Linked DNA regions of Homo sapiens. The protein of the gene in region 2 interacts with the protein of the main gene of each other region in a pairwise test. Each region holds a gene or a part of one and is shown on either strand. Other genes may lie near its edges.

Region 1 (3,755 bases), on a different chromosome or scaffold from region 2:
ACTCAGCAATAAAAAGGAATGAACTATTGTTACAAGTAATAGCATGACTATATCTCAGAATAATTATACTGAATGAAAAGAGTCAGACCACCAAAAAAATATACACTGTATGATTCCATATATAGTATTTTTTAAGCTCTAGAACAGGGGTGTCCAATCTTTTGGCTTCCCTGGGCCACACTGGAAAAAGAATTATCTTGGGCCACACATAAAATACACTAACACTAACCAGAGCTGATAAGCCTAAAAAAATTGCAAAAAAATCTCATAATGTTTTAAGAAAGTTTACTAATTTGCATTGGGCTGCAGTCAAAGCCATCCTGGGCTATATGAGGCCCACAGGCAGCAGACTGGACAAGGTTGCTCGAGAAATTATAAACAAATATAGAGTGACAGAAAATATCAGCAGTGCCTTGTAATGAGGCAGGGAGAAGTGGGAAGGAAGGATCACTGACAGACATGACGAAACTTTTGGAGGTAATGGATATACTTACGGCTTCAGTTGTGGTGGTTTCATAGGTGAGTGTATATATATTCATCAAAACTAATCAAATTGTATACTTTAATTATATACAGTTTATTGCATTTCAATTAGAGCTCAAAAGAGCTGTTAAAACAATCTACACGAAGACATTTTTGAACAATATTATGTCACTTAAATTAGAACAGTGTTCATATTCTGGTTAGAATACTGTTTTAAAAACTCATTAACACCATCATAATCTTGTATCAATTATTTGTTACTTTCTAGAAAGCCAACTTCCATTAGGAAACTAGGACAATTAGTGAAAAGAAACATTATTTCAGAACTTCTCTAAAAACAGAAATCTGATTTCACAATAGCATTTCAATATACTGTAATAGCTTACTTTATATTTCATAAAAAGCATTCTTCTTAGTGATTAACATGTAATACTCATTCAATGCTCACAACAACCCTGGGAAGGACTTGAAGCAAGTACTATTTTGTCTCTACTTCAGATAAGAAAACTAAGGCACAGCGGGGTTAAGTAAGCTGCCAAAGATACAGAACTGATAAGTTATAGAACTGGAATTTGAACCCAAAGAGTCTGGTTGTAGTGTCTCAGTCCTTAAATATCACACTCATACTGCCTCCCTATGATTAAATAACAAGATATATGTCTTTATGAAAGAGATGATATAGGAATTGAAAACTACAGCCATAGCAATGATAGGAATAAAGATTCTAAAAATGATAAAACTATGCTGGGCGCGGTGGCTCACGTCTGTAGTCCCAGCGCTTTGGGAGGCTGAGGCGGGCAGATCACGAGGTCAGGAGTTCGAGACCAGCCTGGCCAATATGGTGAAATCCCGCGTCTACTAATAATACAAAAATTAGCCAGGTGCGGTGGCACATGCCTGTAGTTCCAGCTACTCAGGAGGCTGAGGCACGACAATCACTTGAACCCTGGGAGGCGGAGGTTGCGGTGAGCTGAGATCACATGACTGCACTCCAGCCTGGGCAACACAGTGAGACTCCATTTCAAAAAAAAAAAAGGTAAAACTGGCATTATTTTGGTAGCCTTTTTTTTTTTTTTTTTTTTTGAGACACAGTCTCGCTCTGTTGCCCAGGCTGGAGTGCCATGGTGCAATCTCAGCTCACCGCAACTTCCGCTTCCCGGGTTCAAGCAATTCTCCTGTCTCAGCCTCCTGAGTAGCTGGGACCACAGGTGCCTGCCACCACACCAGGTTAATTTTTGTATTTTTAGTACAGACAGGGTTTCAGCATGTTGGCCAGGCTAATCTCGAGCTCTTGACCTCAAGTGATCCACCCCCTCAGCCTCCCAAAGTGCTGAAATTACAGGTGTGGGCCACCACGCCCGGTCTGTATCCTTTTTAAACATGGTTCTTAATTTCCAAATTTTTCTTATACATCTTAGTCACCTATACTATATATGTATTGCATATATTGTATACTATATATGTACTGCATATATTTACCCTAATAATCACTATTTAATTTTAAAAATTTCTTAAGATGAGTTTTGGCACAAGTTAAAGTTGAAAACTTAAGTAACTATGACAATGTCCCGACTAAGAGCCTCAAAATACACACGAAAGAGGGAAAAAAATCTGTTAATCCATTAGAGATAGTCATTTTTCCACTGTTGAGAGGTAGAACAGACCACATGTTAAATCAAGTCACAAGAAATACACAGGCAAACATACATATGTGTGTGCATATGTGCACACACTTACAGGAATAACATTACTGATAATGGAATCTCATGTCTTAGCTTTTCCTTGCCTTCTCTTTGTCAAAGGAGGAGAATTACTATGTATTCAGAATCATGATTCCTGTCATTGGAACAGCTGGAGAATACGTCATCCAACTTCTTAAATTTTCTAAATGAGGAAACTAAGATACACTGAAGTTAACGGTTCTGCTCAAGGTGAAACAACCAGGTAATAACAAAATCACAACTAAAACAGACTGGCCTCTCAATCCATTAGTAACACCTTTAGAAACAATCACAACACTTGATTAATACAATTATTTAGAGTGCTGACTTCTTAAAACAAAAAGAAAAAACATACAGTAATTTGATAGTTTTTTTTCCCAGAATAAAAAAGCACAAGCAGTATATTTGGACTTCAGTTCTACACATACTTACTTAAAAGCGGATAAAACCTAACTTAAGTAATAATTATCATGTGACCACATTAAAGGGACAGCTATATACCTTTTTAAAATTGAAATGTTAATTAGTTTTTTAATTACCTTACATGAGCATAAGATAAGCAATAACATTTAGAAACATAAGGAGTAAAATCATCCTGGATAAATACACCATCCCTGTACTATAACATACTTTTTTTTTTTTTTTTTTTTAATTGAGATAGAGTCTTGCTGTGTCACCCAGGCTGGAGTGTAGCAGTACAATCTTGGCTCACTGCAACCTCTGTCTCCTGGGTTCAAGTTATTCTCGTGCCTCAGCCACCCCCAAATCTGAGACTACTGGCACATGCCACCACACCCGCTAATTTTTGTATTTTTACTAGAGACGGGGTTTCGCCATGTTGGCTAGGCTGGTCTCGAACTCCTGGCCTCAAGTGATCTGCCTGCCTCAGCCTCCCAAAGTGCTGGGATTACAGGTGTGAGCTACCATGCCCAGCCCATGCTTTTTAAAAATGCATTTCATGGGGATTCAAGACTCCTAAAGTCTTGAAAAAAGCAGCTTTTTACCTAATAAAATATTACATTGAATAGGTTAAAAATTATATAGTAAAAAAAAATGGTCATCTCTGATAGGGTATACTGAAGCATTAGAGAGCTAAGATCTAATATCTCAATCTGAGTAGTAACACCACATACTTGACTGTATGTACTGTTTGTATGCTATACCTCAATACGAAAGTTCCAAACAAACACATAAAAAATAAGAACAAAACAAAATCAGAAAGCCAGAAAAACATACTTAACTCTCATAGTATCTGATCTTGATTGCTCTGTAAAGGCATCATTGCCAATTTCTTCTAAGGAAAGGCAAAACGCACACTAGTCTTTTCTATTTCTAGGGTCAGAAGGGGCTTGTAGGCTATTAAGGTACAAAGACAGGGCTCTAAAATGTTACCTTAGCAATACTCAAGTAGTTTTGTACATATGGAGGCTGTCTCTCCATATAAGCTGAAAGATTTACTGAATGCCTAACCTGGAAGTGGCCTACTAATTGACAGGATGAAAAGAACAGTGACTGTTAAAAAAAAAAAAAAAAAAAAAAAAAAAAAAAGAA
Region 2 (3,755 bases):
TAGTTCCGCAAAAGGGCAAAAGGAAAATTTGGCATGTTTCCCCAATTACTACAGGAATTGTGATGGTCCAGGAAGCTATTATCAGCTGAATGCAGACTTTGTGGTTCATCACTAGAGGATACTGCAAAGGCTTACAAATAGCCACGTAGCGGTCATAGGCCATCACTGTCAGAAGGAGACACTCCGTGCCTCCAAGCATAAGAAAAAAACACATTTGTGTAGCACAAGCAAACAAAGAAATATTTCCTTTCTGAGTCCAAATGTCCATGAGCATTCTTGGGATAATGATTGTTACATAACAGATTTCCAAAAGGGAAAAATTGCTAAGAAAAAAATACATGGGAGTCTGGAGAGCGGGGTGAATTTTTATTAGTAGTATTATGATGCCATTGCACATCAGGATCATCAAATACATAAGTAAAAATATACTAAAAAGCATCCAGTGGAGATTGGGAATATCAGAAAACCCCAAAAGAACAAATTCCATTATTGTAGTCACATTTGATTTTTCTCTTTTAGTTTGCTCTCCATCTGCAGATATAGCAAATTCAAGACAGTTAATTCATCCATATTTTGAACAATATTTTCCTCTTGGGTTAACTAAATGAGATACAGGAATATACTTACTTAAGCTCTTAAGTCATTTTCACCAGTACTTGCTCTGTTTCTAGATAATAAACTGATTTAGCATTAAAATCAATTTAAGAAATGAAACCTCAATATATTTTATTATACTGGGATATAATGCAACCAGAGGCATTGAGAAGCATGCATTGTTGTTTAGAAAATATTATGGAGGAATAACATCTTATTATTTCACACTTAAGAGTAGAGTTATAGTGTAGGCTTTTACTATTTCATCTGAGAATATCATTTTTCTTTGTATTGGTAGTCATATTCCAGTTTTTTTAATTCAAAATGTTGCCCTTGAATATTACGATTAATTCATACTCAAAATGAATTTTAAACTTTTCCTTTTATGCACCAGTGAGAATCAATTATCTTAAACAATTTCTTGGTTACTGAGAGACTAAATACATGCATTATTGTTGCTCTACTTCATGTCTCTCTCCTATTATTTATGCTAAATATAAAAACACTAATACCAGTAGGCAGTTTATTGACTTCCCCTGTTATTGCCCTGAATACAGTGAATGCTAAATAGTAATTAAATTATAACTTAATCAAGATGTAGAAATTCATCACAATTTTTTTTACATTTCTTTTTTTTATCTAAGTGAATTTCTCCATTGTCATATAACCAAATACAGTTCCTTTCAACCAAATACAATTCCTTCTCTCTATTTTCCCTTCATCCTGTTGCCTTATTAAAGTAAAATTCTTTGATTAAACCCAGCTAACATTTACTCTGGCCATCTAAGTGGCCAGAGCATATAAATGGGACCAAAAAATTAAACAAAACAAAACAAAAACACACTGTCTTGCTTCACTTCATGTCAATGTCATCCAATATGAGGAAATCACTGCTTGTCAATTCCCATTACACTTGCTTAACGTTTGTTCTCCAACTTTCTAAACAAATTCTTTTTTTCTGTGTCTTCAAATCTGCTGCACCTATACCTATTTTAGCCCGGTCAGCCAATGCATTTGACTTAATACGTTGATAAATGAAAGTGATCAGACAAATACTATCTCATATTTATACATTTCTATTAGTACTAGTTTTCAAAATTGCCTTAAATGACTTTTCATCACTAATGCAATTTTACCATTATTGGACATCTAATTTTATTTAACTTTGTAGTGAAGAGATACATGATTTAAATGTTAAATAATTAATTTTCAGATAAAGGTCTCAAAATTTCATGCTTTTCTGTTTTATTAGTTGCATTTCTATCCACAAACTTGTAACTATTCTTAAATAAAATAGTCTGTCAACCCAATTATGGCTTACCTTTAGGGATTTGCATGAAGCTGTCTGTACAGACTTTTTAAGCTCTTCCTTTTCTCGGGAACTGTAATTTTGCAATACGCTTGCTTGTTTCAAACAGCAACAGCTCTTATATAGGAATAGTCAGACTCAACCTGGGATGTGTCTTCTCTTGAGTATCAGTTTAATTTCTAGAAGGCTGCTTCTGTTTGTCAATCATTCTGATTCATTTTTCAAAACTACTTTAAGTAAACTTATCCTCCTCTTCATCTCCTCATGAGGGGAGTTAATTAAATACCATTTAGTTGTCTAGTATTACTTTCAGGAAAAAGTTAAAAATTTTCCAACTGTGTATTTGAGGCCCCTAATACTTAGTGTGGATTTGTCTGCCTTACTTCTATTCCAATAATTTATCCAGATCCAAATTAACTAGACCTTTAAAAAATATATCATGTGTTTAATCACACGAACATGATATGCTTGATGTCTTCGACATATTGAACGGTGAGATTCTTTTTCAGATGTGGAACCCTCTGTTCCTAGGTTAACTTTTTTTGTGGATATTAAAACATGTTAATTCTGCTGAGAAAATCTATCTATACATTTATTTCATTCTGTGTTGTCTATAAGGCACCAGGGAAATGTATCCAGCTGATTGAAAATGTAATATACCACTCCAAGACGTCCCACTAGACGCAGTCAAGAGGAACATCGCCCACGAGGGACCAGGACATCAGGAAGATTGGTGCACTCCTAGCAAATCTTCAGAAGGAAAGGAATTCTGCATGGGGGTACCACACACAGGAAGCATTCCTGGCCCCCAGTGACTCCTGCAAAAGCATGAGTTGAATGGGCAAGGAGCAACCCTCTCTTTCCATGAGCCTCCGAATCCCAGCAGGAGAAAACCCCTGGACCACAAGTAACACTTGAACTGGCAGGGAGAGATGCTTAGACAAGTGGTAGGGGCAGAACTCCAGCCTGTGTGGAATCCAGAGGGTTTAGTGTGAAAGTGTCTGTAGTGGAGCATGGCCAGGGATGCCCATCCCCCCAGGCTTGACCTGCTCCCGTAGGAAGCTTTAGCCCTATGGGAACTATGGGACCTGAATTCTGCACGGCAGTCTCACCCACTACATGAGGCTATTCTAACTTCAGCACCACTCAGTTTGCTGGCCTCTCCTGGGTCCCAGCTTGGCCCCCAGCCAGGTACCTCCTGGGGGCCACATCATAGCTCCTGTGCTGGTGGACCCCCGGCTGACCAGCAGACTGATCCAGCAGAGTAGCCTGTGCAGACACAGGCCAGCCCACCAGCACCCTCCCTGCACTGCAGCCTCTCGGGCCACTTTGCCTGCACTCACTCACCCATAGCCACCCCCTATTTATGTCTCTCTCCTATTATTTATGCTAATTATAAAAACACTAATACCAGCATCCCTTTGCCAGTGAGTGTGTGTGCCAGAGGACATTGCCTTCCCTTCCCTGCCACTGTGAGTGTGCCCATACATCCTGTGTGCCACTGCTCCCGGAGTGAGTGCACCTTTGGCCCTGCTGCAGAGCCGTTGTCCTCGGAGCGTTTGTGGGCCCGTCCCTCCCTGAGCGGGTCTAATGGTCACTAACTAGTGATCATTAGAGAAATGCAAATCAAACTTTCCATCACTAACCAGTGATCATTAGAGAAATGCAAATCAAAACCACAATGAGATAGATACCATCTCACACCAGTCAAAATCACTATTATTAAAAAGTCAAAAAATAACAGATGCTGGTGAGGTTGCAGTGAAGAGGCAACACTTACAGTGTCTTGATGGGAGTGTAAATTAGTTCAACCATTGTGGAAAGCAGTGTGACGATTCCTGAAAGAGGTAAA

What was found. The genes of interacting proteins can lie anywhere in the genome.
Region 1: the proteins of OR10AG1 (region 2) and EBAG9 interact in binary tests that used the Homo sapiens proteins (3 or more experiments, as listed by UniProt).

What each region holds. Positions count from the first base shown.
Region 1 is NC_000008.11:109,543,133-109,546,887, reverse strand, and holds part of EBAG9 (receptor-binding cancer antigen expressed on SiSo cells), read right to left. Parts: intron 1-3,755. UniProt on the Homo sapiens protein: May participate in suppression of cell proliferation and induces apoptotic cell death through activation of interleukin-1-beta converting enzyme (ICE)-like proteases.
Region 2 is NC_000011.10:55,967,977-55,971,731, forward strand, and holds the start of OR10AG1 (olfactory receptor 10AG1), read right to left. Parts: upstream 1,970-3,755; 5' UTR 1,932-1,969; coding exon 1,916-1,931; intron 532-1,915; coding exon 1-531. UniProt on the Homo sapiens protein: Odorant receptor.